Linked DNA regions of Homo sapiens. The gene in region 2 interacts genetically with the main gene of each other region. Each region holds a gene or a part of one and is shown on either strand. Other genes may lie near its edges.

The links.
Region 1: changes in TAF1 (region 2) and PPP2R1A together harm fitness more than expected from each alone (negative genetic interaction), as found in Homo sapiens cells (one large-scale study listed by BioGRID).
Region 3: of TAF1 (region 2) and RB1, changing one suppresses a phenotype caused by changing the other (phenotypic suppression), as found in Homo sapiens cells (one study listed by BioGRID).
Region 4: changes in TAF1 (region 2) and EIF3H together harm fitness more than expected from each alone (negative genetic interaction), as found in Homo sapiens cells (one large-scale study listed by BioGRID).

The regions. Positions count from the first base shown.
Region 1 is NC_000019.10:52,196,552-52,200,051, reverse strand, and holds part of PPP2R1A (serine/threonine-protein phosphatase 2A 65 kDa regulatory subunit A alpha isoform), read right to left. Parts: intron 1-3,500. UniProt on the Homo sapiens protein: The PR65 subunit of protein phosphatase 2A serves as a scaffolding molecule to coordinate the assembly of the catalytic subunit and a variable regulatory B subunit.
Region 2 is NC_000023.11:71,386,857-71,390,356, forward strand, and holds part of TAF1 (transcription initiation factor TFIID subunit 1), read left to right. Parts: intron 1-404; coding exon 405-605; intron 606-1,380; coding exon 1,381-1,522; intron 1,523-1,881; coding exon 1,882-2,012; intron 2,013-2,728; coding exon 2,729-2,809; intron 2,810-3,500. UniProt on the Homo sapiens protein: The TFIID basal transcription factor complex plays a major role in the initiation of RNA polymerase II (Pol II)-dependent transcription.
Region 3 is NC_000013.11:48,362,751-48,366,250, reverse strand, and holds part of RB1 (retinoblastoma-associated protein), read right to left. Parts: intron 3,437-3,500; coding exon 3,294-3,436; intron 3,064-3,293; exon of another isoform or gene 1,358-3,063; coding exon 1,280-1,357; exon of another isoform or gene 1,275-1,279; intron 1-1,274. UniProt on the Homo sapiens protein: Tumor suppressor that is a key regulator of the G1/S transition of the cell cycle. The hypophosphorylated form binds transcription regulators of the E2F family, preventing transcription of E2F-responsive genes.
Region 4 is NC_000008.11:116,749,324-116,752,823, forward strand, and holds part of EIF3H (eukaryotic translation initiation factor 3 subunit H), read right to left. Parts: intron 1-3,500.

The DNA.
Region 1 (3,500 bases), on a different chromosome or scaffold from region 2:
GTTGGGTTCTCCGGTCCAGGAGTTGAAGAATATCTCTGCGATCACAGACGATGAGCATCTGATGAAGTGTTGTGATGGTCTCTCCTCAGAAAAATGCACACAGTAAATCTTTCATACAGGTAGTCCAAAAACTCACCATTCTGGCATTAAACGGACCTCAGGATAAAGTACTACAAAACCTGCAACTGATTTTCAGCTAAAAAATAAAACGTATATAGAGACAGACCTATAGAAAGATAAAAAACTAATATAGCAAACACTAACAATCACTGACCTGGGGTGTAAGTATAGAGGTGCTCACTGCACTATGCTAGAAGTCAGCAAAACTTATTCTATACATTGCCAGACAGTAATTATTTTCAGCTTTGCAAACCTAACTACTGAACTCTGCTTGCGTGGCACTGAAAACAACCATAGAACCAGAACTAGAGAAGCAAACAGGCATAGCTGTGTTCCAATAACTTTACTTGCAAAAGCAGACAGTGGGCTGAATTGGACCCATGGACTGTAGTCTGCTGACCCTTGTGTTAGTCTTCCAAAGTTATGCATGTCTGAAAACTTTCATAATAAAATACTGTGGGGAGGCCAGGCGCAGTGGCTCATGCCTGTAATCCCAGCACCTTGGGAGGCCGAGGCAGGCGGATCATGAGGTTAGGAGATCGAGACCATCCTGGCTAACACGGTGAAACCCCGTCTCTACCATAAATACAAAAAGAAATTAGCCGGGCGTGGTGGCGGGCGCCTATAGTCCCAGCTACTCGGGAGGCTGAGGCAGGAGAATGGCGTGAACCTGGGAGGTGGAGCTTGCAGTGAGCCGAGATGGTGCCACTGCACTCCAGCCTGGGTGACAGAGTGAGACTCTGTCTCAAATAAATAAATAAATAAAATAAAATAACATAAAATACTGTGGGGAGTATTGACCTAGTTGCCTATTTCTTTCCTCTTTGTTTTCTCCAAGTTGATCTGTGTGTTCTTCTCTCAGCCTGAGCTATGGGGAAATATACACATGGGCTAGGGCCATACTAGGTGAGCAACAGCCCTGAGGACAATGAGATGGTACAGGGAATAATTACAATTAATAATCATAATCATAAATGCCAGAACAATAGCAACAAACATTTATTGTTTGCTACGTGCTTGGCAGCAATCCAAGTGATTGACATGGATGATTAACACACTGAATCCTCATAACTGCTCTGAGGTATGTATTGTTAGCAGCGTCCCCACTTCACTGATGCACAGAGGCGAGTGAGGACACTGATGCACAGAGGTGAGGCTGTCACTTACTGGAAAGCAATGAAGCCAGGCAGCCTGACTCAATTTCAATATCATACTGTCATTTAGGCAAAAATGTTTGTATCATGAAGCTTCCATAAAAACCAAAGAGGAAAGGATTCAGAGAGCTTCCTGATAGCAGAACATGCACATTCTTGGAGGGTGGCATCCCCAGGGATGGCACGAAAGCTCCCCGCCCCTTCCTCCATAGCTCACCCTATGCACCTCTTCATCTGTATCCTTTGGAATATCCTTTATAATAAACCGGTAAACCTAAGTGTTTCCTGGAGTTCTGTGAGCCGCTCCAGCAAATTAATCAAACCCAAAGAGGGGGTCGTGGGAACCCCAACTTGAAGCTGGGGATGCCCAAGAGGTGGGCCCATGACAATCAGGCTGCTTTCCCATCCAGAGAGCTCCCTTCCTTCCACTGCTGTTCTTTGGGATTCTGCTTTTGGTTTCATTAAAAGTGTTTCTTCAGGCAGACAGCATCATCAATGCTTGAGAAAGATGGCCTAGGGTGGTACTACAGAGCTGCACTGTCCAGGTTCAAGGCTAAACTGCTTACATATTAGCTGTGGAATCTTGGGCAATCCTTGTACCTTTCTGAGCCTCAATTTTCTCATCTGTGAAGTGGGGATGATGAGAATACCTACCCTCAGAGGGTTGTCTTGAGTACAAAATGACATTCTACAGGGACACCCTAGCACCAGGGGAAGATTAATAATGGCAGCCGTGGCAACCACGCCTCACTGACAGCATCCTGATTTTGTTCAGATTATTAAGAAGGACATCGTGGCAGCTGGTCCACTGATGTTTCTTTTCCCTTTTTTCACCATGACAGAATAATAACAGTAAATATTTCCTTAGTCTCTACTATGCCCCAGGCTTTAATGTTTTAATTCATTTGACCCTCACAATCCCATGAGGGAAATACAGAATCCCCCGTCTTGAGGCAGAGAACACAAAGGCACAGGGAGCTTAACTGCATACAGCTTACTGGTAGTAAAGCCAGGATTTGAATCCCAGCCACCAGGTTCTTAACCAGTACTATGGATTCATATTTGCTCTGTTTTTTCTTTTTTGTTGTGCTTGTTGTTGTTTTGAGGCAGGGTCTCACTCTGTTACCCAGGCTGGAGTGCAGTGGCACAATCGTAGCTCACTGTAGCCTTGACCTCCCGGGCTCAAGTGATTCTCCCGCCTCAGCTACCCAAGTAGACGGGTCTACAGGCAGGTGTCACCAAGCCCAGCTAGTTTTTTAACTTTTTGTAGGGATGAGGCCTCACTATGTTGCCCAAGCTGCCCTCAAACTCCTGAGCTCAAGCAATCCTCCCACCTCGACCTCCCAAAATGCTAGGATTATAGGCATGAGCCACTGCACCCGGCTTTTTTTGGTTTTTCTCTTGTAGAGGGGTGGGGTGGTGCCATGAATCCCCTTAGCAGGTCTAATAATGAACGCAATTTTGAAAGAGGTGAACATAAACAACACTAGAAGATATGTATAATAGCAGAAATGACATGTGAACACAACTCCTGATTTCCACTGGTAAGTCACAGGTTTTGCTAACGCTACCTATGATATACTATAGTGATATTATAATCTATAACAGAAGGGAAGTTAAATGTAAGTTAAAGGTTAATGAAAATAAAGATGTTATTTTTGCCATCCAAATTCATGGACCTGCCTGGGAATTGCAGATGATCCCCAAGTTAGGAGCTCCTGCATGGGGCTATACTGCTGTTCATAATCCTTGGTTTTCAGCTGTACACATGACCCCTGGAAAAGACATTTCTGAATTGCCTTTGCATCTGAATGTGACTATAAAACTAACATCTGGCCAATAAAATCCAAGTGGAAATGTTTTGTGCAACTTATAGGGATGGGGGTCACACTTATCTTCCCTCCTTCCTGTCTGGAATGGAGCTATAATGGTTGGGGCTTCGGCAGCCAACTTGGGGACCTGAGGTAACCTGGGGGACACGGAGGGTAGAATGGAGGATACAACCAGCGCATAATGGTAAGAGCCTGGGACCCTGACACCATGAAGTGCCACAGCAGCCTGGATTGCCACCAGACATTTTGGTCATCAGTCAGATAGAAACTTCAAGCTCATTTAAGCCCCTGTTATTTAGAGTTTTTCTACTACTTACAGCCAAACTTAACTTCAACTAACTCTGCATATGACCTAGTTCTTGGCAAAGAGATATACAAGCAAGTCTGCTGAGGA
Region 2 (3,500 bases):
TATAGTACTTGGTACATTATGAAGTGATTTTCATATGTAATCTTCATAGCAGTCCTGTGAGGTATAGGCATTTTTAAGTATCTCTGTTTTGTAGATGAGGAAAACTAAACTTAGACATGTTAAATAGCTTAAATAGACATGTTAAATCATAGAGGTAATGGCAGAGCTAGCATCATCTGAATTCACATCCTGTATTTTCTCCCCTACTGACTCTGAAAGATAGTGGATGAAAAATTGTTTAGTCACATTTGATAATCTATATTTTAATTTATTTGTATTACTGGATAGACCTTAGATGGCGTAATTAAGATGGAGAGCAATAAGCTTGGTATTTCTTTCTCAGCAGTTGACTGAATTTCCTAGGGCTACTCTGTATATAATTTTTGTGTTTTTACTTTTGTTAGGCATTTGAGAACAACCTTTTTCGTGCTCCAATTTATCTTCATAAGATGCCAGAAACTGATTTCTTGATCATTCGGACAAGACAGGGTTACTATATTCGGGAATTAGTGGATATTTTTGTGGTTGGCCAGCAGTGTCCCTTGTTTGAAGTTCCTGGGCCTAACTCCAAAAGGGCCAATACGCATATTCGAGACTTTCTACAGGTAAGAATGGGAGGATAGGGAGGGGATTGGGTTGTATACAGAAAGGGTATGTTGGGGCCGGGCATGGCGGCTCATGGCTGTAATCCCAGCACTTTGGGAGGCCGCGGTGAATGGATCACTTGAGGTCAGGAGTTCGAGACCAGCCTGACCATCATGGTGAAACCCTGTCTCTACTAAAAATACAAAAATTAGCTGGGCGTGGTGGCTCACGCCTGTGATCCCAGCACTTTGGAAGGCCGAGGTGGGCGGATCACCTGAGGTTGGGAGTTTGAGACCAGCCTGACCAACATGGAGAAACCCCGTCTCTACTAAAAATACAAAATTAGCCAGGCGTGGTGGCACATGCCTGTAATCCCAGCTACTCAGGAGGCTGAGGCAGGAGAATCGCTTGAACCTAGGAGGCGGAGGTTGCAGTGAGCCGAGATCGCACCACTGCACTCCAGCCTGGGCAACAAGAGTGAAACTCAGTCTCAAAAAAAAAAAAAAAATTTAGCCAGGCATGGTGGCGCACGCCTATGGTCCCAGCTACTCTGGAGGCTGAGGCAGGAAAATCACTGGAGCCCGGGAGGCAGAGGTTGCAGTGAGCTGAGATCAAGGCACTGCACTCTACTCTGGGTGACAGAGCGAGACTCCGTCTCAGAAAAAGTAGGCTGTGTGGGTTTGGGAGCACATCGGGAAAGATGAAAATACATTAGAGCTTAGCAAAGGAAGAGGCCCTAGTGAGGACTTTTATCCTTTTCTTTGCCAAATAAAATACACTTGGTTTGTTGGGCAGGTTTTTATTTACCGCCTTTTCTGGAAAAGTAAAGATCGGCCACGGAGGATACGAATGGAAGATATAAAAAAAGCCTTTCCTTCCCATTCAGAAAGCAGCATCCGGAAGAGGCTAAAGCTCTGCGCTGACTTCAAACGCACAGGTCGTCTGTTGTGACTAGTTATTTGTCTGCCTTTTTCCAAGAAAAGAATTTTGATGGCTTTGAGTTAAAGGATAAGCATATAGTTAATAAAATAGAAATTGATGGCTGTTGAAAGGAGGTAGCAGATCTTCTAACACTCTGGTTGCTTTTTTGAATTTGGCTGCCAGGAAGTTTAATGTGATTGTTGGATATCTTCTATGAGTTGTAGGAAACTTAGCAGCTGGGGTTTTCTTGGCCAGTCATGCCAACTGTGGCTAGGCCTGTTACAGTTTTGGTTTGCTGTCCCTGTTGCTGTCAATAAATATCAGGGCCTTTGGAATTCAGAATGGTCTCATTCTCTATGTATATGTCTTTTCCAGGGATGGACTCAAACTGGTGGGTGCTTAAGTCTGATTTTCGTTTACCAACGGAAGAAGAGATCAGAGCTATGGTGTCACCAGAGCAGTGCTGTGCTTATTATAGCATGATAGCTGCAGAGCAACGACTGAAGGTGAACACCTTCCTCTTAGACACCACTTATGCCTGTGGTTTTTTGTTTTTTTTTTTCTTCCCCCCAGAGAGATGAGAGAGAAGATTCTTTCTCTGACTGGCTTAGGGAGGATGGTTTACTAGATTATTACCAATTACTAAAAAGTTCAATTTGTATAAAGTACTTCTACGTACATCAGTTCTGGAGAAAAACTATAGTGTAGCTAAGTATCAGTGGGAAGGCATAATGAGGAACTTTGGGCATATTGTTTTGCTTTGAAAATGGTGACTGGGTGACTTTAATCTCTTCTTTGCAAGATAAGCATATAAGCAGGGAAAGTACTTGTCAGCCTCTCAGGTAGGCAGAGATGATGATGGTGCTGAATGTGTGGTTTAGAGAAGCACAGAATTCTTATAAGGCCAAAAGAGAAAAGGTCCAGCTGAGGTGTGACAGCACAGCTCTGTCCCACTGAGTTAATGAGACTCAGTTATTGAGCATCTCTGTTCAGCTTGCTTATGGGCTGTAACTATCTGTATATCAGCTAGTAAGCTCCTTGGCATGTTGTAATGTATCTTATAGCTTAAGGATGTGCCGTGGTGTTAGATATAGTGAAGACTTTATGGAATCCATCTATGCAAAATAGACTTTGGTATTCTGTACTTGTATTCAGTAAAAAAAAAACTTGTGCTTTGTGTTTTTTAACTGACTGATTTATGCATGGATCTGTCCTCTTCCAGGATGCTGGCTATGGTGAGAAATCCTTTTTTGCTCCAGAAGAAGAAAATGAGGAAGATTTCCAGATGAAGATTGATGATGAAGTAAGGCTTTATACTAGTTTGTATTAGTCATTAATACATCTCATTTATCCTTTTAAAAGAGACAGCTTTATTGAGATAACATAAAATAAACTGTACACATTTAAAGTATACTGTTAGATGTTCTTGCTTTATTCATGCCAGAAAAAATGATGCGATATATCAAATATTATATTTTATATGATATGGGTTTGTTTTTTTTTGTTTGTTTTGTTTTTTGACAGAATCTTGCTCTGTCACCCAGGCTGGAGTGCAGTGGTGGCATGACCTCGACTCACTGCAACCTTCACCTACCGGGGTTCCTGCAATTCTCGCGATTCTCCTGCCTCAGCCTCCCGAGTAGCTGAAATTACAGTTGCACGCCACCATGCCCAGCTAATTTTTTGTATTTTTAGTAGAGATGGTGTTTCACCATGTTGGCCAGACTGGTCTTGAGCTCCTGACCTCAAGTGATCCTCGTGCCTTGGCCTCCCAAAGGGCTGGGATTACAGGCATGAGTCACTGCACCTGGCAGGATTTTCATTTCTTCTAGAAAAAAGACTTTGACCTGATTTATAAGACTTCACATGATTTGGGCCTTGCATATTAATCTGACCTCCTTTCATCTCCTGTCACTGCCTGTCTTATATTCTAAGCTCCAACCATACCGAAGTTCATTCAGTTTCCTAAATTTCTCTTCCCTTTCAGAATTTTT
Region 3 (3,500 bases), on a different chromosome or scaffold from region 2:
TTAAAGGAGAAAAAAAGATTGCTACAACAGATTTTAAAGTTATGAACAGCCTAGTTTTTGGTACCAAAAGTGGTAACAAGACTCATTAATATAACATTTGGTCCCTTCTTGCCTCTTCAGTACCATATTTTAATTGTTCTGCCCTGTATCCCAACCTTAATGAATTACTTAGAGTTCACTGATCAGACCATACTATCATACATCACTGCACCTTTGAATCTACAATGTCCAACCCTTGGAAATGCTATATCTGTAATGCTTACTCAGATTTGAAATCACATCACCTCTAAACTATTTTCCACAAAACCTATCAGCCCTAGTTTGGATTAGGTAGCTCTCCTTTGAGATATCACAGAACCCTGTGAATACTTTTTTCACACTCTTGTAGACTCCTGTAATGCTCTATTTCTTTGTCAGCCTCTCCCACTAGCACTTTAAGGATAGTGACTGAGAGTGAAATCTCTGTATCCATAGTATCTAGCACGTGCCTGACATATATTAAGCATTCAAAAAATATTTGTTGAATTAATAAATTAATTCAAAAACTAGCTATCAATTCAGGTTACAGAACTAGCAGTCTAGCTATTTTATTTCATGCCTTTTGGTCATAGTGACTAATACTATGTCTTCTAAAACACTGGTTTTGTTCTTCATCATCTATCACAGCATCCTTTTCTCCACATATTTCGTCTTACCATGCAAAGCTCTCAGTTATTCTGTTCTCATTGGAAAGACATTTGTAGCAAAATGCGAAACAAAACAGGTAGATGGATGGAATATCACTAAGGTAAAACACTTCTGCAATAGTCACAGTCATTTCAACAAATACATTTGTATTTTCAATTAAGCAGTTCTTAAAAATCCTCAAAAGAGATGTTCCACAATGTAGTAATGCCAATAATGTTGATGGCATTAATCATGGTTCCTACGCTTAATGAGGCTTACCAAAGCAAATTTAATGGTTTATATTTAGCTATTAAAATTTAGCTATTTAATGGTATTTAGAAGTTTAAAAGTCTATACTTTGATTTTGGAAAAAATTCAATAAAGATTGATTTCTAGTATAAATCACAAAATGATGCTAATACATTTGATTATATACTCAAAAGCTTTTTGTTACTATACAAAAGTTAGTTTCACCACAATTCTACTTGGCTAGATTCTTCTTGGGCAAAAAAAAAATGTGATACACAGTAAATTGATCTAAGAAAGTTAGACAATTATCCTCCCTCCACAGTCTCAAAACATTAATATTTTATTAAATTTCCTTTCAGATTACCTCTGGAAGTCCATTAGATGTTACAAGTCCAAGAGAATTCATAAAAGGTATAAAATTTTTGAAATAAACATTTTTCACCTGAAAAAGATGAAGTTACAACATGATCATTAAAATTTAAAACAAAATCTAATCTCTTGACTCTTGAACAATGCAGGGTAAGTTAGAGGTGTCAATCCCCCATGCAGTAAAAAATCTGTGTATAACTTTTTTATTTTTTATTATTTTCTTAGAGAAGGGGTCTCTCTATATTGCCTAGGCTGAAGTGTAGTGGCTATTCACAGGTGCAATCACATGCATTACAGCTTCAAATGCTTGGGCTCAAGCCATCCTTCCACCTCAGCCTCCCAAGTAGCTGAGACTACAGACCTATCGATTACTTTTGAGTACCCAAAATTTAACTAACAGCCTACTGTTGACTGGAAGCCAACCAATAACATAAAGATTGAATTCACATATATTTTGTATATGTACTATATATACATACTAAATATATCATCTTCTTATGATAAAGATAGAGAAAAGAAAATATTAGGAAAATTGTAAGAAGACAAAATACATTTACAGTAAGTTTATGTCATCTGTTAACAAAAATCGTCCGCCTGAAACAGCAGGCATCTGCAGCTACAGTTTTGTATGTATTTTATGGTATAGTAAATGATAAAATAGACTAGTATCTACATATATTTTGTACATTCAAGACATGCCTTTTTCTTAATTTTTTCTGTATTTGTAGGCTACACGGTTTGCTACAAATTTTTTCAAATTATTGCAAATCTCCAAAATTTTTTCTAATATATGTAATTAAATATATCTGTGTATAAACGGACCCATGCAATTCAAACCTGTTGTTCAAGAGTCAACTGTATATTTGTTGAAATTAGTAAGCCATAGTGCAAAAACTATGATATATCTTGATAAATCATTCTAATACTTCTTAAACTAGATTTTAGGACCACACTCTCACTCCTTCCCAAAGTTAACAGAGAAATTTCAAAGATGTAACATTTTTTACTGCTATCTGGTGTTAGTGATTGTGGACAATAAAACAAACTATGAGAAAAACTGTATGGTAAAAAGGAAAGAAGCAATAGTACCAGATATCCCAAAGTCTAATGTAGACGCTGTAAATAATAAGCTATCAGTCCCTGGAAGCTTGTTTACTCATTATAAAAAGGAGATTGAATACATTATTTGTAAGATTCCTTCTAACATCCACATTCTATGAACAAGACAAGTAATTCCTGGGAATTCATATGTATTCTCCAGCAGTCATTATGTGCTGTAATATTTAGAAAGAGAGTAATTATAGAAGGCCAAACAGAAATTTAATGTTGGTATCACTTATCACTAAACTAAAACACTAGAGCACTAGAGTTTTCTAAGCAGGGCTTTTTTGGTTTGTTTGTTCGTTTTTGGAGACATAGTCTCACTCTGGCGCCCGGGCTGGAGTGCAGTGGTGCAATCATGTCTCACTGTAACCTCAAACTTCTGGGCTCAAGCAATCCTTTTGCCTCAGTCTTCCAAGTAGCTGGGACTACAGGCACATGCCACCATGCCCAGTTCATTTTTTTAAATATGTATTTTGTAGAGACAGAGTCTCGCTATGTTGTTCAGGCTGGTCTAGACCTCCTGGCCTCAAGAAATCCTCCCACTTCGGCCTCCCAAAGAGCTGGGATTACAGGTGTGAGCCACCATGCCCAGCCTTGGCAGGGTATTTTAAAACATTAGGGGTATCAGTAACCTCAGAGGAATAAAAAAAAAAAAAAACTACATTTGAAAACTATTGTCTTGATTATATACTTTTCAGTGATTCCAGAGTGAGGGAGCTACTCTCTTTAAAATCAAAGTAACTAAATATAACGAATTAATTTTTTCTAAATATTTTGCTACTGCAAAAGAGTTAGCACTAATTACAAAAAAAACATGCTCATAACAAAAGAAGTAAATATTGTTAGGGAGAACTTACATCTAAATCTACTTTAACTGTTTTAAAGAAATCATGAAGTTAAATTACCTCATCTATATTACATTCATGTTCTTTACAGAGAACTTCAATAATTCTTGTATCATTTTCTAGTTGTTTTGCTATCCGTGCACTCCTGTTCTGACCTCGCCTGGGTGTTCGAGGTGAACCATTAATGGGTATAACAGCTGTTTCTGTAAAAGTGGTAAATTAGATAAGAACAATTGTACATCCATCATATAAAATAATGAAGTATTC
Region 4 (3,500 bases), on a different chromosome or scaffold from region 2:
AGAGCAAGCTTCTTCTCAAACAGTAAAATGCTATAAATCACCTGATTGTGTAGGTCAGGAGAGGGGCCTGAGATTCTGTGATACGTATGTCTGCATTTCTAACAAACTCAAGTGTAGCCAACATTGCTCATCTTACTGGACATGGATCATACTTTGAATAGCAAGGTCTAATGAACATAAGAAAGGTAAAATTCAAATGTTCTAGGGAACAAAGTGGGTTCAACATGAAAAGTTTAACGGGAAGAATTAGCTTGATCTTGTCTAGGAACAATGAGACCACCTGACAGAATGAAGACCCATTCTTTCTTTATTTTTGTTTTTTTTCTTTTAACTCATCTGTATTTGTTACAACTTTAAGCAGAATGTGACTCAGGCACTACATTTCCATCCACAAGACTAGCTCTGAGTTATTTTTGAACAGCTTTACGACATGCTTAGGTAGGCTTATAACTTTGCTCCTCCAAATGATACTTTTCTTTGGAAAACAAGCCCTGTGGAGGGCTTACTTTTCTTTGGAAAACAAGCCCTGTGGAGGGACTGCTACATTACAGATACAGAGGAAGTGATGAAACAGGTCTAAAGGTAGGAAAGGAAGGGTTCAAAAATACAAGAAAAATTGGTCTTGGCCACTATCAATGTGCCAGGAAGGAACAAATGTGTTAAAACATCAGGCTAAACATAGGATGAGATTAATCTCTGGGTTCATCTACATCTATATATGACTGAGAATGGTCATGAGAGTCGGGACTGGGTTCTACCTTGCTCACCTATATAATATCTTATATAGGTTACTGCAATATACCCCAGCATGTAGCAGGGCTAGACCTGGCATGTGGTCGGCAATCAATAAATATTTGTTAAATGAATGAAGAACAGAATACATCTGGAGTATACAGATTCAAGTTAAACTATATGGAGAATTTTTAAAAAAACAGAGTAAGTCGATTAAGTCACATTTTTTATTCAATATGTGATGATGAAAGAGAACAATTTCAAAGAGAAAGAACTTCATGAACAAAAGCAAGGTCATGCTTACTGCTTTGAATAAGGATGTGACTCTAGGTCTGTCTTTAGCATGACTTTTTTTTTTTTTTTTTTTTTTCTGAGACGGAGTCTCGCTCTGTCGCCCAATCTGGAGTGCAGTGGTGCAATCTCGGCTCACTGCAAGCTCCGCCTCCCCGGTTCATGCCATTCCCCTGCCTCAGCCTCCTGAGTAGCTGGGACTACAGGCACCCGCCACCACGCCCGACTAATTTTTTGTATTTTTAGTAGAGACAGGGTTTCACCATGTTAGCCAGGACGGTCTTGATCTCCTGACCTCGTGTGATCTGCCTGCCTTGGCCTCCCAAAGTGCTGGGATTACAGGCGTGAGCCACCACACCTGGCCTTTAGCATGACTTATTAAAGAAAAAACTAAGTAGTCTGAGGGGCTGGAATGTACAGTTCCTACAAAGCTTGGAAAGAAAGGAAATAAACCTGAACATAAATGCAAGAAACAAGGACAACATTTTGGTCCTTCAATTCAATGGAAAGTCACTGAAAACATCTAAGGAAAGAAGTTAAAATCTGAATGTTCACGTTAAATAAACGTTTTAATAAAAGTATGAGGCCGGGCACGGTGGCTCACGCCTGTAATCCCAGCACTTTGGGAGGCCGAGGCGGGCGGATCACGAGGTCAGGAGATCGAGACCATCCCGGCTAAAACGGTGAAACCCCGTCTCTACTAAAAATACAAAAAATTAGCCGGGCGTAGTGGCAGGCGCCTGTAGTCCCAGCTACTTGGGAGGCTGAGGCAGGAGAATGGCGTGAACCCGGGAGGCGGAGCTTGCAGTGAGCCGAGATTGCGCCACTGCACTCCAGCCTGGGCGACAGAGCGAGACTCCGTCTCAAAAAAAAAATAAAATAAAATAAAATAAAATAAAATAAAAGTATGAATGGTAGACTGAAGAAGGCAGGGGAAAACAATATTAAAATAACCTGCATAAGATATTAGAACATAAATTAGTATAAATAATAAAATGGAATACATACTCATTCATTTATCCTACTTTGTGAATTAACAGGTTCAGCACTGGAGATAAAACAGGTGAAAAAGCATAGTCCCTGCCCTCAGTAGCATACATTCTGATGAGGAAAACAAAGAAGAAAACAAACAAGATAGTTACAGGCTGTGGAAAATTCTAGAAATATAGGGTGCTGTGATGGAAAGTAAGGAGAAGAACAAGTCTATAATTCTATTTTGTACATGTTAAATATGAGATGCCTATGAGATATCCAAATAGTGACGTCAAACAGGCAATGGGTATTCAAAAGAGGCATTCAAGAGCCATTACTGGCAGAAATATAAATCTAGGACTTATTAGAATATAAATATTTAAAGCCGTGAGCACAGATAAGAATACCTTAAAGAATACTACTATAATTACTGCAAATAAAGCAGCAGCAAAGCTTAAATGGTGACTTATTCTGTCCCAGACATTGTTCTAGTTATTGACATATATTCAATCCATTTAAAGTCTCAAAACAATTCAGATGAGGAAAATGAGGCACAAAGACTTGCCCAATGTCATGCAGCAAATTTCAGAGCTGGGATTCAAATCCAAGCAGTCTGGCTCCAGAGCATGTACTTTTATCAACTTCGTTACACTACCTATGTCAAGCAGAGACTAAAAGAAAAGCCAAAACCTAAACCATGAGGCACTCCAATATGCACAGATGGAGAAGAAACATAAAAGGAAAGGAGTAAGTGGCCTAAAAGGAAGGATAGTGATTGACTGGGGTCACACACCAATAAGAACCCTCAGGATTCAGGTATGAAAGCAAAAGAAAGAAACCATAAACCATGAAAATTGATAGGGATAGTGGCAATCATTTTGTGGATGAGAAAATGTACCTTTGGAGTAAAACAATCATAGAAGTGTTGTTAGTTACTGGTGGATGCAGACTGGAATGCATGTCTCCTGATTACCAGGAGCACTGAAGTGCTCTTTCTACAATTCCAATCTACATTAGCAAAGTTAGCATTCGAAATGATTTGAGAAACATTAATAAGGATGAGAGTGGTAAAGACACAGTAATCTGAGTGTTTACGATGACACAGGTACTATACTAAACACTTTAAATACCTCGGAATTTCATTCTCACAACCCTTATGAGTTACTACTTTATCATCATCCCCATTTTACAAAGGATACACCTGAGGCCTAGAAAATTTAATAACTTCCCCAAGGTCATGCTTACTGCTGGAATAAGGATCTGAATCCAAGTCTGTCGTCAAGATTCTCTTGGCTAGTATGTAATATTGCTTTCCTAAGAGTAACACTGTTCATCAAGACAGAAATGAAGAAAGAAAGAAAGAAAGAAAGAAAGAAAGAAAGAAAGAAAGAAAGAAAGAAAGAAAGAAAGAAAGAAGAGAAAGAAAGAAAGAAAGAGGGAGGGAGGGAGGGAGGGAGGGAGGGAGGGAGGGAGGGAGGGAAGGAAGGAAGGAAGGAAGGAAGGAA